2 separate regions of the Homo sapiens genome follow, and region 1 is linked to region 2. Evidence: fine-mapped expression QTL. A gene starts in region 2. The other region holds a variant in brackets. All regions are shown on one strand. Distances are from middle to middle.

Evidence for each region.
Region 1: its variant is fine-mapped to the expression of ZDHHC21 in cerebellum (GTEx, PIP above 0.99).

Annotation. Positions count from the first base shown.
Region 1 is chr9:14,658,219-14,670,700 of GRCh38, reverse strand. ZDHHC21 (zDHHC palmitoyltransferase 21) reads left to right here. Exons shown (of 10, transcript NM_178566.6): 6 at 8,375-8,486; 7 at 11,814-11,952. Among named protein-coding and RNA genes, the nearest start is that of ZDHHC21, 29 kb to the left of the region's middle. The variant T/A (reference allele first, on the strand shown) is at 8,979.
Region 2 is chr9:14,685,946-14,703,043 of GRCh38, reverse strand. ZDHHC21 (zDHHC palmitoyltransferase 21) reads left to right here and starts at 9,612. Exons shown (of 10, transcript NM_178566.6): 1 at 9,612-9,815; 2 at 12,659-12,707. RefSeq lists an enhancer at 9,107-9,607 and silencers at 9,681-9,750, 9,831-9,970.

The DNA.
Region 1 (12,482 bases), 30 kb after region 2:
TTTAGATACTTATGTAATATCTTCATGTTATCAAAGGAATGACTCAAGTTCTTTCTTTAAATCAATTTATGGTCCAGACCATAGATTAGCAAATAAATTCTTCTTTACTATAAAGGCCCGTAGTAAATATTTTCAGCTTTATGGGCCATACAGTCTCTATTACAACTCCTCAGCTCTGCCACTGAAACACAAAAGCAGCCATAGACAATATGTAAATGATGGGTACATCAAACTTTGTTTATGGACCCAGAAATTTGAATTTTATGATTTTACATGTCACAAATTGTTATTTTCAATAATTTAAAATTGTAAAAATTATTCTTAGCTCATAGGTCATACAGAAACAGGTGGTAGACTGGATTTGCCTGCAGACTGTAGTTTGTATCTGTGGTCTAGATTACAAAATTGTAGGCTTTCTCTAACTATTGCCAAGTGCTCTCTTCTGAGAATACATTTTAGATATAAAATGAAGAATTTATTCTCTAGGATATTATATGCTGATTTCTCAGAAATTACCAATAATGAATACACCGTGTTTATGTTTTAAGTGGCTGATAAAAACAAATTTTTATATCGCCTTTTAGTGAAAATTGGCTCGTTGTGGAGCGCCTCCTTCCTGTCTATATTCCTTGCAATGTGTGAATTCAAAGTTTTTTTGTTTGTTTGTTTTGTTTTTTTTTGTTTATTTGTTTTTTTATTATACTTTAAGTTTTAGGGTACATGTGCACATTGTGCAGGTTAGTTACATATGTATACATGTGCCATGCTGGTGCACTGCACCCACTAACTCGTCATCTAGCATTAGGTATATCTCCCAATGCTATCCCTCCCCCCTCCCCCCACCCCACCACAGTCCCTAGAGTGTGATATTCCCCTTCCTGTGTCCATGTGATCTCATTGTTCAATTCCCACCTATGAGTGAGAATATGGAGTGTTTGGTTTTTTGTTCTTGCGATAGTTTACTGAGAATGATGATTTCCAATTTCATCCACGTCCCTACAAAGGACATGAACTCATCATTTTTTATGGCTGCATAGTATTCCATGGTGTATATGTGCCACATTTTCTTAATCCAGTCTATCATTGTTGGACATTTGGGTTGGTTCCAAGTCTTTGCTATTGTGAATAATGCTGCAATAAACATACGTGTGCATGTGTCTTTATAGCAGCATGATTTATAGTCATTTTGGGTATATACCCAGTAATGGGATGGCTGGGTCAAATGGTATTTCTAGTTCTAGATCCCTGAGGAATCGCCACACTGACTTCCACAATGGTTGAACTAGTTTACAGTCCCACCAACAGTGTAAAAGTGTTCCTATTTCTCCACATCCTCTCCAGCACCTGTTGTTTCCTGACTTTTTAATGATCGCCATTCTAACTGGTGTGAGATGGTATCTCATAGTGGTTTTGATTTGCATTTCTCTGATGGCCAGTGATGATGAGCATTTTTTCATGTGTCTTTTGGCTGCATAAATGTCTTCTTTTGAGAAGTGTCTGTTCATGTCCTTCGCCCACTTTTTGATGGGGTTGTTTGTTTTTTTCTTGTAAATTTGTTTGAGTTCATTGTAGATTCTGGATATTAGCCCTTTGTCAGATGAGTAGGTTGCGAAAATTGTCTCCCATTTTGTAGGTTGCCTGTTCACTCTGATGGTAGTTTCTTTTGCTGTGCAGAAGCTCTTTAGTTTAATTAGATCCCATTTGTCAATTTTGTCTTTTGTTGCCATTGCTTTTGGTGTTTTGGACATGAAGTCCTTGCCCATGCCTATGTCCTGAATGGTAATGCCTAGGTTTTCTTCTAGGGTTTTTATGGTTTTAGGTCTAACATTTAAATCTTTAATCCATCTTGAATTGATTTTTGTATAAGGTGTAAGGAAGGGATCCAGTTTCAGCTTCCTACATATGGCTAGCCAGTTTTCCCAGCACCATTTATTAAATAGGGAATCCTTTCCCCATTGCTTGTTTTTCTCAGGTTTGTCAAAGATCAGATAGTTGTAGTTATGCGGCATTATTTCTGAGGGCTCTGTTCTGTTCCATTGGTCTATATCTCTGTTTTGGTACCAGTACCATGCTGTTTTGGTTACTGTAGCCTTGTTGTATAGTTTGAAGTCAGGTCGTGTGATTCCTCCAGCTTTGTTCTTTTGGCTTAGGATTGACTTGGCAATGCGGGCTCTTTTTTGGTTCCATATGAACTTTAAAGTAGTTCTTTCCAATTCTGTGAAGAAAGTCATTGGTAGCTTGATGGGGATGGCATTGAATCTGTAAATTACCTTGGGCAGTATGGCCATTTTCACGATATTGATTCTTCCTACCCATGAGCATGGAATGTTCTTCCATTTGTTTGTATCCTCTTTTATTTCCTTGAGCAGTGGTTTGTAGTTCTCCTTGAAGAGGTCCTTCACATCCCTTGTAAGTTGGATTCCTAGGTATTTTATTCTCTTTGAGGCAATTGTGAATGGGAGTTCACTCATGATTTGGCTCTCTGTTTGTCTGTTGTTGATGTATAAGAATGCTTGTGATTTTTGTACATTGATTTTGTATCCTGAGACTTTGCTGAAGTTGCTTATCAGCTTAAGGAGATTTTGGGCTGAGACAGTGGGGTTTTCTAGATAAACAATCATGTCATCTGCAAAGAGGGACAATTTGACTTCCTCTTTTCCTAATTGAATACCCTTTATTTCCTTCTCCTGCCTAATTGCCCTGGCCAGAACTTCCAACACTATGTTGAATAGGAGTGGTGAGAGAGGGCATCCCTGTCTTGTGCCAGTTTTCAAAGGGAATGCTTCCAGTTTTTGCCCATTCAGTATGATATTGGCTGTGGGTTTGTCATAGATAGCTCTTATTATTTTGAAATACGTCCCATCAATACCTAATTTATTGAGAGTTTTTAGCATGAAGGGTTGTTGAATTTTGTCAAAGGCCTTTTCTGCATCTATTGAGATAATCATGTGGTTTTTGTCTTTGGTTCTGTTTATATGCTGGATTACATTTATTGATTTGCATATATTGAACCAGCCTTGCATCCCAGGGATGAAGCCCACTTGATCATGGTGGATAAGCTTTTTGATGTGCTGCTGGATTCGGTTTGCCAGTATTTTATTGAGGATTTTTGCATCAATGTTCATCAAGGATATTGGTCTAAAATTCTCTTTTTTGGTTGTGTCTCTGCCCGGCTTTGGTATCAGAATGATGCTGGCCTCATAAAATGAGTTAGGGAGGATTCCCTCTTTTTCTATTGATTGGAATAGTTTCAGAAGGAAGGGTATCAGTTCCTCCTTGTACCTCTGGTAGAATTTGGCTGTGAATCCATCTGGTCCTGGACTCTTTTTGGTTGGTAAACTATTGATTATTGCCACAATTTCAGCTCCTGTTATTCGTCTATTCAGAGATTCAACTTCTTCCTGGTTTAGTCTTGGGAGAGTGTATGTGTCGAGGAATTTATCCATTTCTTCTAGATTTTCTAGTTTATTTGAGTAGAGGTGTTTGTAGTATTCTCTGATGGTAGTTGGTATTTCTGTGGGATCAGTGGTGATATCCCCTTTATCATTTTTTATTGCATCTATTTGATTCTTCTCTCTTTTTTTCTTTATTAGTCTTGCTAGCGGTCTATCAATTTTGTTGATCCTTTCAAAAAACCAGCTCCTGGATTCATTGATTTTTTGAAGGGTTTTTTGTGTCTCTATTTCCTTCAGTTCTGCTCTGATTTTAGTTATTTCTTGCCTTCTGCTAGCTTTTGAATGTGTTTGCTCTTGCTTTTCTAGTTCTTTTAATTGTGATGTTAGGGTGTCAATTTTGGATCTTTCCTGCTTTCTCTTGTGGGCATTTAGTGCTATAAATTTCCCTCTACACACTGCTTTGAATGCGTCCCAGAGATTCTGGTATGTTGTGTCTTTGTTCTTGTTGGTTTCAAAGAACATCTTTATTTCTGCCTTCATTTCGTTATGTACCCAGTAGTCATTCAGGAGCAGGTTGTTCAGTTTCCATGTAGTTGAGCGGCTTTGAGTGGGATTCTTAATCCTGAGTTCTAGTTTGATTGCACTGTGGTCTGAGAGACAGTTTGTTATAATTTCTGTTCTTTTACATTTGCTGAGGAGAGCTTTACTTCCTACTATGTGGTCAATTTTGGAATAGGTGTGGTGTGGTGCTGAAAAAAATGTATATTCTGTTGATTTGGGGTGGAGAGTTCTGTAGATGTCTATTAGGTCTGCCTGGTGCAGAGCTGAGTTCAATTCCTGGGTATCCTTGTTGACTTTCTGTCTCGTTGATCTGTCTAATGTTGACAGTGGGGTGTTAAAGTCTCCCATTATTAATGTGTGGGAGTCTAAGTCTCTTTGTAGGTCACTCAGGACTTGATTTATGAATCTGGGTGCTCCTGTATTGGGTGCATATATATTTAGGATAGTTAGCTCTTCTTGTTGAATTGATCCCTTTACCATTATGTAATGGCCTTCTTTGTCTCTTTTGATCTTTGTTGGTTTAAAGTCTGTTTTATCAGAGACTAGGATTGCAACCCCTGCCTTTTTTTGTTTTCCATTTGCTTGGTAGATCTTCCTCCATCCTTTTATTTTGAGCCTATGTGTGTCTCTGCACGTGAGATGGGTTTCCTGAATACAGCACAGTGATGGGTCTTGACTCTTTATCCAATTTGCCAGTCTGTGTCTTTTAATTGGAGAATTTAGTCCATTTATATTTAAAGTTAATATTGTTATGTGTGAATTTGATCCTGTCATTATGATGATAGCTGGTGATTTTGCTCGTTAGTTGATGCAGTTTCTTCCTAGTCTCGATGGTCTTTACATTTTGGCATGATTTTGCAGCGGCTGGTACCCGTTGTTCCTTTCCATGTTTAGCGCTTCCTTCAGGAGCTCTTTTAGGGCAGGCCTGGTGGTGACAAAATTGGTCAGCATTTGCTTGTCTGTAAAGGATTTTATTTCTCCTTCACTTATGAAGCTTAGTTTGGCTGGATATGAAATTCTGGGTTGAAAATTCTTTTCTTTAAGAATGTTGAATATTGGCCCCCACTCTCTTCTGGCTTGTAGGGTTTCTGCCGAGAGATCCGCTGTTAGTCTGATGGGCTTCCCTTTGAGGGTAACCCGACCTTTCTCTCTGGCTGCCCTTAACATTTTTTCCTTCATTTCAACTTTGGTGAATCTGACAATTATGTGTCTTGGAGTTTTTCTTCTTGGGGAGTATCTTTGTGGCGTTCTCTGTATTTCCTGAATCTGAACGTTGGCCTGCCTTGCTAGATTGGGGAAGTTCTCCTGGATAATATCCTGCAGAGTGTTTTCCAACTTGGTTCCATTCTCCCCATCACTTTCAGGTACACCAATCAGACGTAGATTTGGTCTTTTCACATAATCCCATATTTCTTGGAGGCTTTGCTCATTTCTTTTTATTCTTTTTTCTCTAAACTTCCCTTCTCGCTTCATTTCATTCATTTCATCTTCCATTGCTGATACCCTTTCTTCCAGTTGATCGCATCGGCTCCTGAGGCTTCTGCATTCTTCACGTAGTTCTCGAGCCTTGGTTTTCAGCTCCATCAGCTCCTTTAAGCATTTCTCTGTATTGGTTATTCTAGTTATACATTCTTCTAAATTTTTTTCAAAGTTTTCAACTTCTTTGCCTTTGGTTTGAATGTCCTTCCGTAGCTCAGAGTAATTTGATCGTCTGAAGCCTTCTTCTCTCAGCTCGTCAAAGTCATTCTCCATCCAGCTTTGTTCTGTTGCTGGTGAGGAACTGCGTTCCTTTGGAGGAGGAGAGACGCTCTGCATTTTAGAGTTTCCAGTTTTTCTGTTCTGTTTTTTCCCCATCTTTGTGATTTTATCTACTTTTGGTCTTTGATGATGGTGATGTACAGATGGGTTTTCGGTGTGGATGTCCTTTCTGTTTGTTAGTTTTCCTTCTAACAGACAGGACCCTCAGCTGCAGGTCTGTTGGAATACCCTGCTGTGTGAGATGTCAGTGTGCCCCTGCTGGGGGGTGCCTCCCAGTTAGGCTGCTTGGGGGTCAGGGACCCACTTGAGGAGGCAGTCTGCCAGTTCTCAGATCTCCAGCTGCGTGCAGGGAGAACCACTGCTCTCTTCAAAGCTATCAGGGACATTTAAGTCTGTGGAGGTTACTGCTGTCTTTTTGTTTGTCTGTGCCCTGCCCCCAGAGGTGGAGCCTACAGAGGCAGGCAGGCCTCCTTGAGCTGTGGTGGGCTCCAGCCAGTTCGAGCTTCCCGGCTGCTTTGTCTACCTAAGCAAGCCTGGGCAATGGCGGGCGCCCCTCCCCCAGCCTGGCTGCCGCCTTGCAGTTTGATCTCAGACTGCTGTGCTAGCAATCAGCGAGACTCCGTGGGCATAGGACCCTCCGAGCCAGGTGTGGGATATAGTCTCGTGGTGCGCCGTTTCTTAAGCCGGTCTGAAAAGCGCAGTATTAGGGTGGGAGTGACCCGATTTTCCAGGTGCGTCCGTCACCCCTTTCTTTGACTCGGAAAGGGAACTCCCTGACCCCTTGCGCTTCCCGAGTGAGGCAATGCCTCGCCCTGCTTCGGCTCGCGCACGGTGCGCGCACCCGCTGGCCTGCGCCCACTGTCTGGCACTCCCTAGTGAGATGAACCCGGTACCTCAGATGGAAATGCAGAAATCACCCGTCTTCTGCGTCGCTCACGCTGGGAGCTGTAGACCGGAGCTGTTCCTATTCGGCCATCTTGGCTCCTCCCCCCGAATTCAAAGTTTTAACACTGGGATGTTTGGGAGCATTGAGCTAAGTAGGGGAGTGGAATATGATATGCTTGTGACATTGTAATATGCTATAGATTAAATGAGTTTTTATTTCACTTAGAGGTAAATAGTACTAGTTTAACTATGTAAATTAAGCTTTAGTACTGTTGCTCTTGCATGATTTATTTTCATTAAAATAACTGTAAGAGATGAAAAAGTATTTTCTTTTAAAATAAGATTTCAAGTATAAGAGATAATTTCTCAACTTTCATATTATTGGAACAATTAATTTGATGTAGGTTTTATTCATACTTTGTTTCTTCAGAGATGTCTGTAGTGGGAGTATTTTCCCAACGCTTTACTATATAAAAGTCCAGCATGTTGATGTTGCTCCTGACCATTCAACTAAAGTAATGGAATTCAAACAGAGAATCTTAAAAAAGAAGAAAAAAAAGAGAAAAAAAAGAAATAAAAATATCAATATTGGTAAAAAAAAAAAAAAATCTGTAATCTGAAAAAAAAAAGAAAATTGAATATTGTCTACTATTATCTTTCACTTTTATTTAGAATCTTTCATTTTTTGATTTTAGACTTTTCATATGTCAGCAAGCATTTAGTGACTACCTAGTATGTGCTAGGGTCCTACTCTTCATGTACTAAAATTCAATCTGAATATAGGAGTTAGGCTAATCTTACTATGTCCATACTTTTAATGAGGTTATGGGATAGTATAAACACAGATGATGAAAATTAAAAGAATTTTGTAAAAGAAAAATTCCATTCCAATATATTTAAAAGATACATTTTTGTATAATAAGGCAATTGTCTTTTCTAGGAAGATGACTCTTCCATAGTTTTCGCGGACCTAATTAGGACAGTTTTTAATGAAAACAAAAGCCTTTTCTCTTATGCAAACTTTGTGTTTTTGGCACAGAGCTTAATCGTGTGCTGTTTCACTCCAGATTAGAGGAAATTGCTAGTTGGTGGTAGTTCAGTGTTTTATGAAGAACTCCTTTATTTTCATTAAAAATAGTAGTTGTCTTATAACATTTTTCACTACTGAAACTATTCTGATACCTCCCAAACCCATATGACATCCTTCTCTAACCTGTCCCATACACACTCTTAAATGAATCTACTGATGTTTTTTAAAATTAAATGATTTAGGGAAAGTGTATGTGGAGGGAAATGCCATCTGTTTTTCGGATGAGTTTATAGGGTTGATTTCAGTTTACTAATCAATTGAAACCAGGGTCAGCATTATTTCTTCTTTAGAGCCTTTAGAAAATGAAATTTCTAGAAATCAATTTGTTTAAATAAAATTGTTTTAGTATAATAATTTGGTTGGGCTCTAGGGTTTTGTCATTGGATTTTACTTATATTCTCACAGTATACCCAGAATCCAAATACATTGTTTTCTGTCTCTTACTTTGACTATAACAATAGTGTCTTATTTTTTTAGTCTTTTAAATTAGAAACACACAAAATAAGACATATGTAGAATAGAACAGCAGCATTTATGGCAAACACATTTATACCAAAGGCTTAGAAGAAAAATCTCTTAGAGTTTTATGTTGAAGGCTTCCTATAAAATCTTCTAAACAACTGTTGGTAAATTTCAGCATTACCCACTTGCCTTCATTAAATGGATTTTAATTTCTTTTCTTTAGAAAGGGAGTTCTGGGAATTATGTAACAAGTGTAATTTGATGAGACCAAAGCGTTCCCATCACTGTAGCCGCTGCGGCCACTGTGTGAGGAGAATGGATCATCACTGTCCATGGTAAGAATAATTCACTTCTAGCAAAGAAAAGAGGGGTGGGTAATAAAATGTAAATCTTACAACTTGGCAGCTTTAAACAACAGTTATGTTAAAGTTATATAGTTTTACAATATCTTAATAAGGATATCTTTATTTAGATTATATGGTTCTGTCAACTCCCAAAGTCATTTTTCCACAGAAATCCTATCTTTTCTAACAGGGAGAGATTTGAGCCAAAAAAGTAAGAATTAACTGCAGCCTGATATACAAAAGGATTAAGGTGGTTGTATTAAATGAGGCAATGTATATAAAACATTTACTACAATATCTGACAAGTAGGATGTACTTAAATGGTAGCTATTTCTAATTGTAATAAACCATATGCATCCGAATGTTTATATCCCCTTTTCATTTGTTTAATTAATAACATTTCAGACACCCTGATAACCTCTTCCTTACCCCTTAAAGCTTTTTAAGCATTATGTATTGGATATAGCTACTACCATTATGTAC[T/A]TGTTGGAAGTATGTGAGTGATAATTAGCTGATTCTGCAGAACTGCTAACAGTTTTGGTCAATAGGGGGCTCTCTTGTAATATTTAAAGAAAATGTTCAGTTGAGAAATATAATCTTCGAAAACAAATGCTGCGTGAATTCTGTATTGTATCTCATTTTAAAGCTGTCACAAAAATCTGTGAACAAGATATTGTATTTAATTCTGTTTTCTTAGCATTGGCTCTCTGTATAAATATTTAAACTGGTATAGTGTAGAATTTGACAAATGTATCTGTATACATATATGTAGTATTTATGTTTGTATACACATACATGCATATATGCAAATTTACATAATGAGCCTCTTAATTTATAATTGCTTTTATTTAAAATTGATGCAAGTGGAGTTTAGCTTTTTCTAATGTTAGTCTATTTAGAGTTTTCTTTATTTTTGATAACTTATTTTGATAGCACAGTTATTCAGCAAACTTCTGGTGGAAATTTGTTTTTTTGCATAGACTGTTTAAAAAGAAGATAATTTCCTGAAATAGGAAAAAGTAAGAGCATTTTCGATAAAAGCATTTTGTTACTACATAAAAATTTTAAAAATTTCTAAATCTGTCAACAAGATAGAGTAGTGTATGACATATAGTTGATATTCAAAACTGTGCCTTGAATTTAAACGTAAATAATTATTTGGGAATTACTTGGGAATAAAGATTAATTCCCAAGTAATTTTCTTAAGCTCAGTGATCTGTTTGCTCTCACAATAGTAATAGATTTTTAGAAAGCTACGTGAAACATGTATTCAGATAATTGCTGATCATACAGAAAAGCTCAGTTTTTAAGCGCTTCTTATTGTAGAGTTTCTTATTCACTAAAATACAAATGTTCATGATGGAAGTGGATATTGATGCTTTTTTTTTCAAACGAATGCAGTAGTAAGAAAGAACTAGGAAAGACTCACTTATTGGTGACCAAATAAGGTGCTATTTAACCTTAATTCTAACGTTGGGGTGATTTCTCTTTCTGGGCCTCTTGCTTCCATAGTTTTAGTCAACTTTTCAGAAGTTGGTAGCAGTGAGGGGGAAGTACAAAGGATTGGAGGATCAGAAAGGAGAGTAGACAAGGGACCTAAAGAGATTCAGGAATTTTTATCATTGAATTTCCTGATAGAGCACTGCTGAAATGTTCAGAGAGCAGGGGAAATGTACAGTGTAAATTGGAAGCAAGGAAAATTTTTGATGTTTTCAGAAATTGCACTACTTAACTGCCTAAGACATTTTTAGGTTTGGAGGTCAATTCTCACGTTGCCTCAAGGTTTTCTGTATTTGTGGCTCTGATCATTCTTTTTTTTTTTTTTTTTTTTTTGAGATGGAGTCTTACTCTGTTGCCCAGGCTGGAGTGCAGTGGCATGATCTCAACCTCTGCCTCACTGCAACCTCTGCCTCCTGGCCTCAAGTGATTCTCCTGCCTCAGCCTCCCGAGTAGCTGGGATTACAAGTGCATGCCACCATGCTTGGCTAATTTTTGTATTTTTAGCAGAGACGGGTTGTCACCATGTTGGCCAGGCTGGTCTCAAACTCCCAACCTCAGGTGATCTGCTCCCCTCGGCCTCCCAAAGTTCTGGGATTACAGGCTTGAGTCACCGCGCCTGGCCTGATCATTCTTTCTAAGTAGTGCAGATGTTACAAAAAGAACTCATATAGATTGAATACCTTAGTGCTTCTTAAAGCTGTTCTGGTTAAGAAGAATGCTGTGATCATAGACATTGTTTCTCAAACTTCCTGGGGACAGGAAAGATGGAACAATGATAAGTCATCTTTCAATCGGCAGCTGTTGAAGAGCACTTTTGAGTGTATATTAATACATAAGCACACTTCTCTTATAATCCTGCTTGCAAATAACAAAGCACAGTAGATTTTCTTGTTTACAAAACATGCACTCTTAAATCTTAAGAAATGCCTCTCTAAGGTTTTTCAGTTCAGGTCTGTATTTGACTTTAAAAAATGGTTTAATGACAAAGTTAAAAAGAGCGATTTAAGTTAGGACCGAAACCTGTTACATCGTTTCTTTTTCAGTGACAGTATAATACTATTTTGAAATGAAAACATTTGTGCAAAGTCATTTGTAGTCTTGAACTAGGGTTTTTTGCTGGAATTTTAGGATACTTTGACAATTTGGATACAATAAATTTGGAACAATAAAATATTCAGCTTAAATTAGCCTTGAAAATTTTTTATTGTAACATTAATCCTCTTTCCTAGTTAGGGTTCACTGTTGTATTGGTGGAAGTATAGCTGTGTGTATTTATAAATAGTTTTGAATACATTTTTATTTTCAGCAACCAGGGGTAGATTTTTAAAATGAAAAGTGAATGCTTAGCAGTTATGTCAGAGTGGTATGTTTCAGCTGGTTTACTTCAGGGCATTCAGATTGCTTTTCACAGCTAGAATGCCCTAAAGGAAGAGCAAAATACAGGGAAGCAGGGTTCTTGCTCTCTTGGCCCCTATGTCTTCTAACTCTACATCCTCTGGCCAGAGGCTTAGCTCCTTTGTTCCCTGTTTCCATATCAGTGACACAGGAGACTACCGTCTGCTCTTCCTGTCTCGCTGAGTTGTTATGAGTTGAAGGGGGATCACATATGTGGACTTCCTTTGTGAAGTGCTTTACAAATATAAGATGGTATATTTATAGTTTTCTCTGTATAGTTTGTTTTTACCTTCAAGTGGCCATAGCATATCTCCATGAAGTTAAGCATATGTGATATTATTTGTTTTTAATTTAGTCTTATTGATCCTGAGGTGAACTTCTTGAAATTTAAAATATTGTTTCTTTTTCATTTTTTTTCTTTAGGATTAACAATTGTGTTGGTGAAGATAATCATTGGCTCTTTCTGCAGTTGTGTTTCTACACTGAACTTCTTACTTGCTACGCACTGATGTTTTCTTTCTGCCACTATTACTATTTTCTTCCACTAAAAAAGCGTAATTTGGTAAGAAATGTTTATATTGGGAGGCCGAGGCGGGCGGATCACGAGGTCAGGAGATCGAGACCATCCTGGCTAACACGGTGAAACCCCGTCTCTACTAAAAATACAAAAAATTAGCCGGGCGAGGTGGCGGGCGCCTGTAGTCCCAGCTACTCGGGAGGCTGAGGCAGGAGAATGGCGTGAACCCCAGGGGGCGGAGCCTGCAGTGAGCCGAGATTGCGCCACTGCACTCCAACCTGGGCGACAGCGAGACTCCGTCTCAAAAAAAAAAAAAAAAAAAAAAAAAAGAAATGTTTATATCCACTAACATTAGAGCAGTTGTAGCATACAATTATTAACATGTGGTTCCTTTAAGTACAAAAGATTGGAAACAAAACAACAAAAGATTGGAAACAAAACAACAAAAGCAAACTCCCAAATTGGTGAATTTTGAACTATATTGGGATTGAGAAAGTGGGCCCTAGTCTGACATTTCCTTTTAATGAAATTCATTTATGGTTATTTATTAGTGTTGAGCTTAGAAAGCAACACGT
Region 2 (17,098 bases):
TTCTAGACCTAGTTGTCTCTCTCTCAAGTACAGTGGGACAAGTTTCAGATATTGTGACAGACCAATGGGGAAGATTTTGGGGGAGCAAGCAGCAGGTCTTATGAGACAACCCAAATAAGCCTCAAGTTAGCTTTGGGTTGACTTCACAAAGTTCATCAGACAAATGTGCTATCTTGCCAGAATGGCCACTGCACTTGACACACAGTCTAAGCTAACGCAGATAGGTCATGTGGCTTCTAGGAGCCACTCCTACACACTGATTTCAACTATAAGACAGGGGAAACACTCTTTCCTTCCCTAGGAAACTTCAAAGAAAATCCTCCTGCTCTCATTTTCATAATAAAAAGTTGACTGGTGAATGTACAAAAAGGCATCCATGTAATTAACTATATACCCTGGTTTAAGTGATAAAGTTTGCTTCAGTGTAAATGATCAGTCAAATTACTCCCCTCTGTGATTAAAGAGTTAAAATTGTGGCCCAGCGTCATGCTCCAGGGCAGCTGTAAGAAATAGAGATCATGGGCGTTGTAGTGTGATAATTCTGCATACTCTCTAATATTGTCTTCATAAAATAGCATCAGCTGCTGCTGCATATGGTATAACTTTAATATGCTCTTTTAATATTTACAGTATGCCTATAAAAGATTTCATGATGACAGTTGGTGGTTCCCGTGGTAATTAATAAATGACAGTACAACTGTGATCAGATGGTTTTAGGAAAGAGTCTCTCAGAATGCTGGCTTTCACAAATCCAGGCCTGGGGATGATTTCTGGGGGCAGGGTTTTCTAAACCTGAGGTTGACCCCATGTCGTTATTTGCCTATGTGGTTTTGTAGAGTTTTATCTCCAGGTTCTTCCCAAACAGCAAAAAGTGGGAAAGAAGACAGAGGAGTTAGTAAGAAGGTTGCCTGCTAGAGCAGATATGAATTTGGAAGTGACTTTTTTGTTTTTGTAATGCAGTTGTAGTGCAACTTACTCCTTGACAAAGAATATGTAGATATGTGTGAGTTTGGTAGGTCTTGCTACCTGAAGCAGCATAGGTAGTTAATAAATCCCACATGTGGTCAGTGTCTTCTAAGTAGTTGGTCAATCTTTTACCATTGATTCCACTGAATTCTTTGATAGTGTTTGCTTGCCTCAGGCCATTCATCACCACACTTTGAGCCCGTATTGCCTATGGGATTTTCTCACGCATCTCTATTTGCTGTTGCATCCATGTGAACCATGTTTTTTATCACCTAAGGCTGAGGCTTCCCACGATGTGTCAAAAGGTGAAATTCCAGGTGGCCTAAATTTTCCCATTTATTAGGTGTAGGTACAATGAACTCAAAGCAGGTATGTTGAATTATTATAGTATATTTGTAAACCAACAAAAGTTAATTCTATAAAGTGTTTTGGAGCCATAAGATATAACAGAAAGTATTTCTTTTGTTACTTTTGGTACCAGGATTTTCCTTGAAGGACTTGGAGATTCATTTCTGTATTCAACATTCTCTTCACCTGAGCAAAGTGAAGAAGTACTGTCTCCTTCTGCCTTTTCATCTCCTTTCCCAGAGCTCAGCACTCTCCTCTTTCCTTTGACTTTCTGAGAGCTCAGCACTTCCCATTCTGTGTCCACATGTAGCTGAGGGTAGCCATTAGATTGAAGCTCTCAGCTTTCCTCTTCACTCTTTCAAAATCTCCCACTTGGGTACTCTCTGGCTCTTCTTTTGCTTCTGACTTTGAAGATTAAGTAGCTATTCTCCTAGCAAAGAGAATCCTCTTATCTGGACTCTTGATTCTACTGGTGCTCTTGCCCCATACTTTAACTCTTAATTCTAACTTGTCTTTCTTCTCTTTTTATGATCTTATCTTAGAGATAACTCATGCTTCCTCATCCTAAAACACAAACAGGAGACAATCCATTAACTCATTTCAAAACCAGCTATGCCTACTGTCTCTATTTCTAAATAATCTCTCTTCTCAGTTTAATTACCTAGTTATTAAAAATCTACTCTTGAGTTTTCCAGGAAAATCCTGCTCACTAAATCTAATGGTCTTTTCTCATGCCTTATGTTCAACCTTTCTTCAGACTTTCAGATCCCTGCCTGTCCTCCACCAATTTCCTCCCCTCCCTGGACTTTTGCAAACCCTTTGGTATCAAAGACCAGATATAGATCCCTCCTCCAAGGGCCTGCCAATCACTCTCATTCTTCCTTTGTACTTTTTAGTTTCATTGTATATTAATTCAACCAAACTACTGGACACCTATAATGGATATAGAGTTGTGGGAAGCAACGGAAAGACAAACACAAATAAGACTGGATATGTTCTTTCCTGGAGCTCACTGTCTTCTGGGGAATATTTATAAGCAAACAGATCATTACAGCATGGTAAGATCTGTGATAGATGAGTCAAGAGAATCCTGTGGAAGCCCAATAGAAGGTGCCTAAGTTAGTCTGGTTGTTCAGCAGTAAGAGACTACCAGAGATCTGAAAGAGGAGTGCAGAGTTAGCAGCTGAGAAGGCAGGGAAAATGATGGGCCAGCAAGCAGTTTAGTGCTACTGTAACATACACTGGAAGGAAAAGCAGAGGAAGGAGTTGAGAGATGGCAGCAGAGATGAGACTGAAGAGGTCAGATTGTTAAGGAACTTTTATGCCACGCTAAGCTTTCATTTTACAATAAAGACATGGGTAGAGTGATGAGAGTGGTTAGGTTTGCTTTTATGAAAGAGTTCATGAGTGATATTGTGCAAAACAGATGGGTTGGGGGCAAGATTAGGGATAGGATGACTACTGCTGTAGTACAGGTGAAAAATAATGACAACCTGAACTCAGTGCTGTAGGAATGCAAAGAAATGAATGGCTTCGAAGGATCTTGTGGAAGTGAAATTGATCGAGTTTGGTGACTGGGTGTGAATGGATTGAGAGGGAGGAGACAGAACTTCTTAGTTTTCAAGCTTAGACAACAGATGTTTCTGAAATTGCAATACTAGGGGGAGAAATAGAGCTGGGGTGGTAATGAAAGATTTGTTTTTGAACACGTTGAGTCTGAAGGTTTGTGGAAACATTCTTCTGGGACCTGCCATAACTGGGATTTTCTCTTTGCTTTGGAATAGGGCTCTTTTGATTTTTAAAATGCCAATGAGGTAAAAATTTGTGGGACAGCAAGAGATAAAAGCCAGTGAAAGGCCTTTGTATACTCTTATTTCTTATCCAAAGCAATGTGCAAATCATATTTAGATGTTACCCACCACTGGCTTCAGCCTTCCACCTGAAGGTAATTGTCATAATAGTTACTGAGTCATTTCTCATGCCAGATTCAGGTTTAAGTGCTTGACATATATTGATTCCTTTGATCTTCATACAATCTAATATGATGACTATTATTATCCATTTTTTACAGATGAGGAAACGAAGGCATCAGTAATTAAGTAACACATACTTAGTAGTGTTAGAATCAGGGAACAAAACCAGGCAATCTCCCTCCACTATATCCTCCTCCATTCTGAGGCGAAGAGTTTCCAATCATTCACAAAGCAGGAATTCACAAACTCTGATTCATGGGGACCAAATATGGGCTGCTGCTCGTTTTTGTAAATAAAATGTTATTGTTGCATGGCCATGTCCATTCATTTACATATTGTCTATGGCGACTTGGCAATCCAATGACAGAACTGAATAATTGCAACAAAGACTAGACCACAAAGCTAAAGCTGTATCTGGCCGGGCATGGTGGCTCATGCCTATAATCCCAGCATGTTGGGAGGCCGAGGCAGGTGGATCACCTGAGGTCAGGAGTTCAAGACCAGCCTGGCCAACATGGTGAAACCCTGTCTCTACAGAAAATACAAAAATTAGCCAGGCATGGTGGTGCACGCCTGCAGTCCCAGCTACTCGGGAAGCTGAGGCAGGAGAATCACTTGAACCTGGTAGATGGAGGTTGCAGTGAGCTGAGATCATGCCACTGCACTCCAGCCTGGGCAACAGAGACTCCATCTCAAAAACAAACAAACAAACAAACAAAACTATATCTGATCCTTTAAAGAATGCATGCAAAGTGCGCTAGACCCCCAATTTGTCATTTCTCCCTTCATGTATGGGAGTGAACAAGGATAGATGTATGACCTTTGTTCTTATAGCCAAATCTCTGCAGAGATGTCCCTGATAACTTCCCAGTCAAGGCAGAAACTTCTGATTTTTTTTTTTTAATCATTTAGTCTTCCTGTGGCAGAAATTGTGGGCCAATGATAAAACCATTTACAACTTCCTTTGCTTTATCTGGGGTACAAAGTGACAACTTTCTCGCTAAGTTATTAATGAAGACATATATATATATATATTTGAGGGGCAAAGAGATTAAAAATAAAAGGGGCACTATCCAAGAGATTAGTAGATATTTTTTATTTTCCTTGCAAACAAACAAGAAGTAGTCTCTTAGAGGAAGGGAGACACAGAACCTTAACCTGATATGTGTGAGAACAGCAGTACTCTCTTATTTTTCATGACTGGTCCTACAGACTTCGCACCCATTTGAGCCATCATAACAAGTGTGTAGTGGGGCTTCTAGAATTTATGGCTCTGGAGCCCAATAGAGTGCAGGGCTGGATATATTGACTTGGAAGTAGTTGAAACATAGGAGATTCTTGAATCATTTCTTTCTCTATCTGATCCTTAAAGGTACTGTGGTTGTTTCTGCCCTTCGCTCTCTTCTCCTACTGCATCCCATTTCTTGGTGACCAAATCCACTCTTACATTCTCAATTGTTCCTGCTGGCAGAGATTCCCTGAAGCCATATTGCAACCTTGAACTTGCTTCCCTAGTTCAGCCATAGACGCCCACTTTATTTATCTATTGCTAGGACATTTGTTTCCTTTTTGCTATTTTCTTTATAATGAACTCTCTCAACAAAAATCTCAATCTCCGTCCTTCATGCAAAGAGGTTGGCACCATCAAAATTGTCCTACTTTTAATATGTTATTTATATTTTGATAGGGAAGGACTTTTTAAATCACTTTTCTATACCCATTTTACTTCCCTATTATCTTGGGACTCTGTTAATTCTATTTACTTAAATTAAGCTGTTGTGAATAGACTCTACTCACAATTTTTTTTTAGAAAGCACCTGTTTCCTCTGCTTTCTACATCAATCCACATTTCTTCAAAAGATGAGGGATGAGGATGACCTAGTCAAAGCCTTGCTTCCTCCCATATTGGAAGAGTCCCTGTGTGAACTTATGAGCCTTATTACTTGTAATGGAAGCTACTTTATTGTGCTATTGACACGGAAAGGGAGACTCTTTCTTGACTTTGAGTCCTGGGGAGTGGAAAACTTTCATCATCAAATGAGTTGTTAAAACCTAGAGGATTACACCTGTAGCCTGACAAACTCATATTTATTGCCTTGCATAGAGAGATGTCACTCCTAGGCAAGAGGGAGGAAGGAGGCATCTTTTGTAAATTGAACTTCCATTGAAGAATTTTGAGGAGCATCTAAGGGAAGCAGGTATCCATTTTGGATTGGTTGTTTTGAGGTGGGATTAGGAAAAGAGAGATTTAGCCAGGATTGGATGCTGTCATGAGGGGATGATGGCTGAGCAATTGGGTATCTCTAGTAATAAATGAAAATAGCCAGCAGTCAGGGGCATCATTGGTGAGAAGTCAGCAATCACCTAAAGAGGGGATCATTATGGCACTTTATAACTGCTGCATGACCTTGGCAGAAAGTGTTTCCTGCTAATTTTGCAGCTGGCTTTATCTGTGTCTGTCCTCCTTGTCTGATTAGTGGCAGGGCTTCTTTTCTCTTTTCAGTCCAAATTGATTCTCACTCTTTTAATCCAAAAGAGATTTTAACTCTTTCAGCATCCTAGACTCAACTCATCAGAACATTCACTAGGATGCGTTTTCCTACTAGCACTTAACCAAGTGTAAGAATCTCAGGTTCATCATGATTTAATTGAATAGAAACTTCTAGAGCCACCATCAAACAATCCAAAGTTGAGGTAAAGCAATGTGGCCTAACAGGTTCCAATGTAGTATACTTAGAACCTTTCCAGATGCCCCACTACTCTGCCTTTTGATAATACCACTGCCCTCACTAATAGTCTTTTCCAGCTTGGAGCAGGTCATCACCTTTTGCCAAAAGCCTAAGGACTCTTCATTGGGAATAGCATTGTTTCTGAGGCTCACCATGCTTGGAATCTGTTCCACATTTCCAGCCCTCTCTCTTTCCATGTATCCTACCTTTGAGCCACACCAGAGGGATTCTTGCACTTTCATTTCTCTATGTTTTTGCTTACACTTTCCTCTGTCCTGAAATTTCTTTCCCTCCTTTCCCCCAATCAAAATCCTATTCTCACTTGCCTGATACAGGAACCATTCTCCAAGAAGCCACCCTTGAACTATCCCATGGAAATTACTAGTTTCTTCATTAGCACTTCCATAAAACTTTCCTTGTAACTCTGTTTAGCACTGCTATTGTTTTTTTCTCCTAAGCACACAGTCGTTTTTGTTTGTTTGTTTTGCAGTTTTCCTTGATATTTGGGGAAAAATGTTTATTTTACCTACTCTCTACATTCTAGGGATATTTCTTAGCCTGAAGTTCCTGGCTTCGCTGTGATCCTTTGGAGGCATAGGAAGGTGGGGCAACTTGTGAAACTTCATATATATAAATTTCATATATATAAATATATATGTTCCTGTATGTGTGTGTGTATATATGTGTGTGTGTGTGTGTGTGTGTGTGTATTTGTGTATATGTGTACTTTGCTGGGGTCCACAACTTTCATCAGATACTCAAAGAGATGTGTAACCCAAAAGAGAAGAGGTTAAGAACAACTTTTAGAATATTAGATTGTTATGGCACAGGCACTCTGCCACTCAAACAGATGGGAGAGACAACTATAGGCAACCAAGAAATCATGAATGTGCATCAAATATGGGTGCTTAAGGCATGGTACCCAGCTGGGCAGGTGGAGAATGCCATCCATCCAAAGCTGCCAAGGGCTATTAGCCAGTACTGATTAAACTCTGGACTGCACTGATTTTTGGAAATTGCACTAAAATCCAGATCCTCCCTAGTCACGGCACAGAAGCACAGGAGTTGGCTGTGTTTACCCTCATAAATGCCCTGAGTGTGCCTTTGTTAGAAGCTTGGTTGGCAGTGGCAGCAATGCTACTTGTCCTTGTCTACTTTTTCTACTTCCAGATAAATATTAGTTTGATTAATAATCACATTTCAGTTTGTCCCAGGCCCCATGAAGTAGATTAGAATTCTGGAGGGAAAAAATATGGTACGATCTATATCGTCTTTCCATAATATACCCAGTAAATAGAAAATCTTTTCAAAAGATTACCTGATGCCACATCTCCCTCACCCCCTTATTGTTACCCAGGTGCCTGAATGTATGGGTTGCAATACAATATAACCAATGATTAGCATGAATGATAGAACCAGATGACTTGACCTTCAGTGTAAGGGATAGGCAGGCCTTTGATTATACTCATGAAATGCCCATGCTAAAAAGGTTCATGTTTTTAAGGATGTTTCTCCTGCCTCTTCTCTCCTATTCCCTTGCTTAAAAATTCTCTGTGGAATTGATTTGGCTGATAAAAGACAGGCTAACTTATTTTAAAAAGGGACTGAAAAATCCATGCACTTCCAATTGTCATGTGCAATCATGGACCTGTCAACTAATTCTTATTTTGGCAGTTTTGAGATCACTTGTCACAAATTATTCCCTCTCACAGGGGTATCTGAAGAGAAAGCAAAATAATATGCAATTCATGTAGCTGGATTCAGGTGGAGGGGATTCTACTTTTAATATGCAATTGGGTAGCTGGATTTGGGTGGGGGGGGGATTTTACATTTAATATGCAATTCTGGTAGCTGGATTCGGGTAGGGAGGAGTCCACATTTAATATGCAATCAGGTAGCTGGATTTGGGTAGAAGGGATTCACATTGAATACGCAATCAGGTAGCTGGATTCCGGTGGGAGGATTCCACATTTCCTCTTCCTTCAAAGTGATTGTTTATATGAAATATCTCCTTCTTTTCAAACAGAGAAAGTTACAAAAATCCTACTACATCAAATGATTTATGAAAAATAAAGGTAATTCTATCAAAAGCAATCGTGACTAGTCTTTCAACCTCGCTATGCATATATCGGGGAGTGTATTTGTTAACCTGAAAGGCAATAAAATCTGCTTATGGGTAAATCAATTCCTACCACTGGGTTCTTTTGGGAATATCTAGTAATCTAGGTCAGTAATTCTAAAACTTGAGTGTGTATTAGGATCACCTAAAAGGCTTGTTACATCACGGATTGCTGGGCTACACCTAAACAGTTTCTACTACAGTAGATCTGGGATGGGGCAAAAGAATATGGATTTCTCACAAGTTGACAGGTGATACCGATGCTGCTGGTCTAGGGATCCCACTTTGATAACCACTGACCAAAGTTTTTAAGGTCACAAGGTGTTTATAATTAGTTCAGAAACCAGGACACAACATGTTTAAAAATCCTTAGCAATACAAGGTAATATGAGGCCCCAAACAGGCAACAATGTGCACTATATAAGGGCAGTGGTGAGAGAACTCTGGTTTGGCAAGATTTCCACTCTCAAATCTGGATAGGGTTAAGATCATCAGAGAGCAGGGCATTCTAGAATGGGGAAATGAACCAAATTAGTTGGAGCTAAGACTGGAGAGGTAGGTAGGGATGTGTCTGTGGAGGGCTTTTAAGCACATCTTATAAGGAATACAGATTTTATACAACAGGTAATATTTCTTCCACCAACACACTGTCTCCTCCTGTGGCACGTGGGCAGAAAGATCTAGCTCCACATTACTGCAAACGGTTTAACCTTCCCCAAATACTGTTCAGCCGGAGTGAGGTGGGAAAGTTAGTAGATCTCTGGTGTTTGGTGAAGATACCAAGTTAGACTGAGAGGTGGATTACTTGCATCGCTGAGTCCAAAAGTTGTCGGCTTTTGCAGGGATGGGAAAGCAGGAAACTTTTGGAGGTCTCCCAAAATATAAGAAAAGATTGTTTGGGTGTGGATTTAGGTTGAGGACAGGAACAGGAAATATCCTGGGATGTCTGAGGCAACCCAATAGAGGGTCTGAAGTGGACGAGACCATGCACTACAGTGCAATGCTTTTCCATCTTTACGGTGCACCCCAGGAGTCACCTGGTGATCTTGCTGAAGTGCATGTACTGATTCAGCAGGCCTGAAATTGTGCATTTCAAAGATTGTGAGTTCCCAGAGGATGCTGATGCTGCAGACCGCGCTTTGAAGCAAGGTACCATGGGACATCCCAGAACACCTGCGGGGAGAGAGGCCTGCTGGCCACATCCCCCGAAGAAAGGATACATGCAATCTTTTAAGCTAAGGCCCCCATCCTGTCTCTCGGGAGAGGTGAGCAGTGAGGATATGGGGACAATGAGAAGGACGGCTCAAGTAGGGCTGGGGAGGGGCAGAGGCGCCCAGGCGCGCCAGGTGCAAGCGCTCTGGAGAGTGCGGTCTGCCTGGGTCCGCGGCTCTGGGGCTGCGGCGCGATTGCAGGAGTTTCGGCCCTCAGCGGCTCCCATCGCGGCTCCCGGGAGCTAAGCGAGACGGCGACGGCGGCAGTCGTCCCTCCCCACGCGGGCGCGCGGGCATGCGGACACCCACTCGGCCGGTCCAGGCCCTCAGGCTCCCGGAAGCGGAAGGGGAGAGCGGCCCGGCCTGGGCGGCGGCGCCGGAGGAGGCGGAGGTGGCGCGGCAGGAGGAGGGGAAAGAGCTGCTGGCGGTCGGGAGAGCGGCGGCAGCGAGAGGCGAGCCAGCGGCGACGGTGAGTGTGCAGGCGCGGGGGCGAAGCGGCCGCCCCCACCCCCATCCCCATCCGCACCCCCACCCCCATCCCCGGCCCCCGCTCCGCTCTGCCGGGCCCGCCCGCCGCTCCTCCGCGCCGGGACGCCCTCACCTGTTCCTGCACGCCCCCTGCACCTGCTCTGTTTGGAACCCGGGGGTTTCTCGGTGCCTCCCCGCCCCAGGCCTGGCCTTTTTCAGAGCGTCTTCTGCTAGAGCTACAGCCCCTTGCTAAGTGCTCCTCCCTCAACTGGGGGTGGGGGGTTCCTGCTCTAGTCGAGACGATGTTGGCTAGTTATTTATTTATTTATTTTAAATCTGTATCCTGAGTTTCTCGCTTGTAAACTACAGTTTCTCTCCCCGCACCCCCGTCTGGAGACCTGCACTGGGATCCCGGGTTTCTCTGTGCTATTCCAGAGCTTTTCATTCATTCCAGACTTCTGGTGTGAAGCTGCAGAGAGGACAAACAGTTTGCTCCTTTATTGACCTTCTCACTCCTCTCCTCTTGATCCAAAGAGGTTTTCGGAAAATGGCTTATGGATGGCAGCAGTTTGCACTTGTTACTGTTCACTGTAACAGGTCGCTGGATTGTAACTGCAGAGTCCATTTAAGTTACGGTCTTTTTCAAGCTATATGTGGGTCACATTTTAAGATCCCTTGAGAGTCAGGGTGGATGTCTGTATCACCAGGGCTGAGAGGACATGACCAATTATTACTTTAAAATATTGCAATATAGCAGTCTCTAAAAGTAGAAGAGAAAAAAAAATCAAGGTCATTGTGGGCGGGTCATAAATTATATTGTAAAGTTACAGTCCAAAGGCGACTAAGGATAATTAAGTGCAATTTAAAAAGATGTGTTAAATAGGTCCTCAGCCTACTATGCTAATATATGCACTTTTAAAAATTCACTGCTTTCCTTGTGGTAAGAATAATATTAATAACAGTCACCATTTGATGACTGCTTAGTATGCGCCATTCCTGGATTAAAAGGCTTTTGGTGTAATATTAAATTCTTCCAACTCTTTAGATTTTACTTATTTTAAAGGTAAAATTCGGAGAGATGCTCTGTTTTTCCTTAGTTTGTGCCATCTCTTAAAAGCAAAAAGATATTTGAAGAATTGAGGTGAGAAATCCACTGGAAAGAAAGAGCCAAATGAGATTTGGTGTCGTGGAAAGAAAAACTAGATTCTAGTCCCATTTCTGTCACTATCCAGCTGTGGGTTTACAGGTAGGGCAATGACCCATGTTATTTTCTCTATACCATCAGAGAGCCAGACTAAATTATTTAAGGCTTATTTTAGCTTTTCCATGCTTACTTGGAAAATGTTTTTAAATAAGACCCTTTAACGTGGTTTGAAGGTACATTAAAAACATATACGAAGTATTAGTAAAATATGAAAATATAAGTTAAAATGTATAATTCCATAATTGTTTTGGTGTAGTACTCTTCCAGAATTCATCATTTTCGATGGAAACAATTCTATTAGATCCTTTGACACTACTGAGATTTCTGTTAACATACTTGAGAAGCTGTAGTTGGAATAAATGAAATAGAGCGTCATTTAAAGAAAATGATGAGGACCGTGTCACTTTTGCCTACGAGGTACTTTGTTTAATAAGAGAAATCTAAGCATTTAAAAATGCAGACATATAATCAGCTTAACAGGAAGTTCTGAGACAAGAATCAATGAATCATAACATGTACTTCTTATTTGCCTACTGCCTCATTTCTTTAATTCGTAATGACCGATTCAGAACCTGTGGAAAAATGCATGAATAAAATAATGGTTTTATAAAATGTGACCCACATATAGCTTGAAAAAGACCGTAACTCAAATGGTCTCTGCAGTTACAATCCAGGGACCTGTTATAGTGAATAGTAACAAGTGCAAACTGCTGCCATCCATAAGCCATTTTCCCGAAAACCTCTTTGGGTTGAGAGGAGAGGAGTGAGAAGGTCAATAAAGGAGCAGTTTATTGTTTGTCCTCCTGCTAGTCTTATTATATAGTGGTTTAGTAAAGAAACTGCTTGAGAAGTTGAGTAATGTCTCAACATGGAGCTGTTTTTCTGGAATTGTAATTGAATGTGACTCAGTGAAAACTTTTTTAGCATAGGAGGTGACACAGTGGCAGTATCAATACTACCAGGCAAAAGAGGGAAGGCAGAGGAAAGGCTGTTTTTATTGCCAAGAGTTTGTTCCCTAAATTCAGTTTTACTTTTATATTAAGGAATGTAACCTTTTATGTTGTTTTAGTAAAACATTAGGGCTCAGATTCAACTTTTCACATGCATTAAATATAATAGGCAATTTAGCATCTAGTAGAATAATCAGTGCTTAAATAACTCTTATTAAAGGTAAAAATACAGGTGAAATTGTAAAACAGTTTTTATTGTTGAAAGTGATTTGTTAAGAATTCTTGATAAGTCAAGTCAGACTAGTTTAAAAAGCACATTTTCATAGACATGTGAATCATCACTGTGCTCATTGATAGGTCCCTGAACAAAAATACCTTAGTATGATGGTACTTTATGTGTTTGTTTTGCTCTTTAGACCTAACCTAGGCAAAATTGTGACATTTTTGAAGTTTGCCTTCTGCCTTTCAAGCTGCTTTTTCCTCTGTGCTATTTCTCTCAGGGTAGATTAACCTTCTTCCCCATTTCAGAGACTCTCTTAACCGATGTGTTGCCCCTTCTACAAAAGGGCAGGTTGGGTAAAATTGATATTTTACCATTCACTGGTGAATTTTATTTTAAATCTAACCTAAAATGCTCAAGTGTGATGTCAACCAAGCTTCTGATTTTAAGCTTTTTATCTGTAATTACAGAATGAAGAACTTTTTCACTTACTGCAGGATTTTCAGCTTCAGCAAGCAGGTGAGGAGAGATTTTTCTTATGGTGTTAGTGTTCTTAAATCATGGCTGCTTTGGTAAAGCCTGGTGTGAAGGAAATCTAATTTAGTCTTCTACCCCCAACCCCCCACCAATCTCTCTTGGTGTGGTGGGTACTAGAAGGTAAGTAGCAGGCTTCCCTTCCTTCTTGGAAGAACATACTTGATTCATACCCAGGAAAAGCCTGGGCCTCTTCATTTCTGGCTTTTACTGTATCTGAAGGTTTTTTCCTTGTGCTGATTTTGGAACAAAAGTTACCTTTTTAAATCCCTGTCCCTATCCTACATTTAATCTTGCCTTTTCAGTCCCTTTTCCCACTCCTATCTCCCTAATGAAAATTCCCACAGAGACCTTTTGTACTGACTGAAACAATATTTGGTGGTCTTTAATTCGTATCACCCCACACCTCCCAAGCTATTTTTACTTTTTGTTAGAAGATTCTAATGAAGTGAGCTTGAGCCAGGGAGAATGGAGACTGAGGCTGCAGTGGGCTGTGATTGCAGCACTCCAGCCTGGACAACATAGTGAGACCCTGTCTCAGACAAACATACCCAAAAAACAGTGGCCCAGTTATCTACTTTCTCTAAAGTTAAAGCAAGTTAATGCAAGCAGGGAAAAATAAAGGTAAATGCCTGTATTAGCAGTACTAATACTACTAGTAGTAATACTACTAGGATAGTGTTAGCAGTATTAATACTGCAGTGTAGTACTACTAATACAGTCATGTACATTTATTTTTCACTCATGAGACTGGTGCACACAAAAACAAATTTATGAGAAGAGCAACAGCTTATGCTCAATTTTGCCCAGAATGTAATTTAAAGACTTAGTCTACAGAGTGGATTCTTGAAACCATTGATAGTGCAAGTATTTTATGCTTTGACACTTTGTCCACCCACGTTTTTACAAAGTCTTCCTGGAAAACTCAGCAATTGATTCAGAATCCCTGCTTGCATTATACATTCTTTATTAGCTTCTGAGATCAAGTACTGATTTTCTTTCACACTTTATTCCTTTGCTCACCAGTCCTGCTTTTACTTGAATGTGATTTAGTTTAGGGGCTTCAGTTCATTCATTCTATTTTAGATCAAATCTCTATTTTCGGTTTTCTTCTTAAAGATCCCCCTAACCAACGTGTAGAAATACAACTTCAGCTAGTATGATACTAGCCGAAGGGCTGTAATATTTGAAGTTTTTTTGACTAGTTCACAGACTTTAAAAAAGTAGATAACGGGGCATTTTTTGTTGTTCTTGTGTTTGTTTTGTTTTTTGTTTGAGACAGGATCTCACTCTGTTGACCAGGCTGGAGTGCAGTGCAGTCACAGCTCACTGCAGCCTTGGTCTCCATCTCCCTGGCTTAAGCGATCCTCCCACTTCAGCCTCCCAATAAGCTGGGACTACAGGCATGTGCCACCACACCCGGCTGGTTTTCTGTTTGTTCGTTTTTTGTTGTTGTTTTTGAGACAGAGTCTCGCTCTGTCACCCAGGCTGGAGTGCAGTGGGGTGATCTCGGCTCACTGCAACCTCCGCCTCCCGGGTTCAAGCAATTCTCCTGTCTCAGCCTCCCGAGTAGCTTGGATTACAGGTGCCCACCATCATGCCTGGCTAATTTTTGTATTTTTAGTAGAGATGGGGTTTCACGACGTTGGCCAGTTTGGTCTTGAACTCCTGACCTCAGGTGATCCACCCGCCTTTGCCTCCCAAAGTGCTGGGATTACAGGCATGAGCCACTGTGCCTGGCCCCCATTTGTTTGTTTTTTAACTAGTGGCTAGGTCTGGCTGTGTTGCCCAGGCTGCTGTGGATCTCCTTAGCTCAAGCAATCCTACCCCTACTCACCTCCCAACATGGTATGATCACAGGCAAGAGCAGGCCCTGGGGTATTGTTAAACTGTTTCATTACTTTTAATGATGGGGACCTAGAAACGTTGTTTCATTCTGGAGTTTGTAAAACTAGAAGTAAAACTTATCTTTCACTTTCCCTTCCTCTGCTCTCTCCTTCGCTCCCCTGTAAAGTTAGCATTTTGGAGGCGCTGCTTTGCCAGTCAATTTCTCATTTAAGCGTGACAGCAACTGTGTAAGTTGACATTTTTATCTCCATTTTACAGATGGTCAAACTGAAGCTTGAAAAGAAACTAAAGCTTGGAAAGTGAATAAGAGACTATGTCATAATTTCTCTTTTAACATCTGTAGAAGATTAATTTTTTAATCTGTTGATAATCAACTGAATATCTATGTGATATTTAAAAAATTGAATTCCTAATTGGCAATGAGAGCTTGATTTTTATGGAGAATTATTTAACTGCCACACTTGACTAATTTTCAGAGTAGAATGATATCAGAAGTCAAAAAGTTTTATAAATACGTTTACAGCTGTAACTCTGCTTTCTAAATTCATTTGGCTGTAATTAATAAGTTTAAAATTTCATATATTCATCTAATAAGCATTTTCTCTTGGCACTGTGGAAAAAAAATTGGTATGTTTGAAAACTTAGCTTGTAAATTGTTAGATTGTATTCTTTCAGGCGTAGCAATATTAAAAATATTTAATGACATTTTATAGTTTTGAAACTTTGAAATTGTTTTGTTGTTCCAATTTTTTGAATGTTTAGGCCCAACGTTACTTTTGTTTTGTTTTGTTTTGAGACAGGGCCTTACTCTGGCACCCAGACTGGAATGCAGTGGCACGATGATTTCTGCTCACTGCGGCTTCTGCCTCCTGGGTTCAAGCTTCAAGCGATTCTCGTGCCTCAGCCTCCCGAGTAGCTGGGATTACAGGCGGGCGCCACTATGCCTGGCTAATTGTTGTATTTTTGGTAGAGACGGGGTTTTAACATGTTGGCCAGGCCAGCCTCAAACTCCTGACCTCAGATGATCTGCCCACCTTGGCCTCCTAAAGTGCTGGGATTACAGGCATGAGCCACCATGCCCGGCCCAGCATTACTTTTATTACCACATAGATGAGATTTCATTTCTCAGAGGTAGTGGTGTTTATCTAGTACTGAAATACGAATCTCATTTCAGAGGCTGTGTCTGCAGTGTAGCTCTGATAACTATAAATGTAAAGTAGGATTTTTCTTGATTTTAAGCCAGCAAGTGACTGGGATTTGACTCATGGGTGATTGGCCTGTGCTATAACCTACTAACGTTACTGACAGAAACTACTATTTTGCTGAAACATTAGGAAGCCACTCTCAAGTCATAGACTTAGTAGCATTATTGTTTTTGGCCATCTTTCAAAAATGTTTGGTTGTACCACATTTAATTCTGTTTGAATTTTTTTCTGAAATAATTCATTTATTTGCCATTGGGGTAGCAGCTCTTTAACATTGTTTTTTTTTTTGTTTTTTTGAGATGAAGTCTCGCCCTGTCGCCCAGGCTGGAGTGCTGTAGTACAGTCTCTGCTCACTGCAACCTCTGCCTCTTGGGTTGAAACGATTCTCGTGCCTTAACCTCCTAAGTAGTTGTGATTACAGGCACACACCACCACGCCCAGCTTATTTTTGTATTTTTAGTGGAGACAGGGTTTTCCCATGTTTGCCAGGCTCGTCTTGAACTCCTGACCTCAAGTGATCCTCCCACCTCGGCCTCCCAAAGTGCTGGGATTACAGGCATGAGCCACTATACCCAGACTTTAACTTTGTAATTCTGTGTTTAGTCTCTAAAAAGCAAAGGTGCAACCAAGGAGCCCACTTTAAATTAGCTTAAAAAGTTAAGAGTAGAAACAAAGTTCATTTGACGATCTAATAACTATGGACCATAGAAAAGTTGACCCTGGGAGGATATACAGGTTCTGTGCCCCCCACAAATGTATAAAGGGAAAAGAAATGTAATAATTTTGATGTATTTTTTACATTCTCAGTATTTAATAGTCTGCTGTTGCTGTGGTAACCAGCACACTTAACACACTTGTAACTTGGCCTTTGTTCCCTGTCTTGGAGAATGGTTCCACCCTTCACCTAGAGCCTAAGTGTGAAACTTGGGAGCCATCCTAGTCTGCCCTTTGCTCCCAATTGATCACTAAGTCCTGTCAGTTTTATTTATTTAAATTCTCCCAGATCTGCCCCTTCTCTTTTTTTTAATTTCTTCTTTCTTTTTTTATTTATTTTCTTTTTTTTAAATTATACTTTAAGTTCTAGGGTACATGTGCACAACATGCAGGTTTGTTACATAGGTGTACATGTGCCATGTTGATTTGCTGCACCCATTAACTCGTCATTTACATTAGGTAGTTCTCATAATGCTATTCCTCCCCCCTCCCCCACCCCACGACAGGCCCCGGTGTGTGATGTTCCCCTTCCTGTGTCCAAATGTTCTCACTGTTCAGTTCCCACCTATGAGTGAGAACATGTGGTGTTTGGTTTTCTGTCCTTGTAAT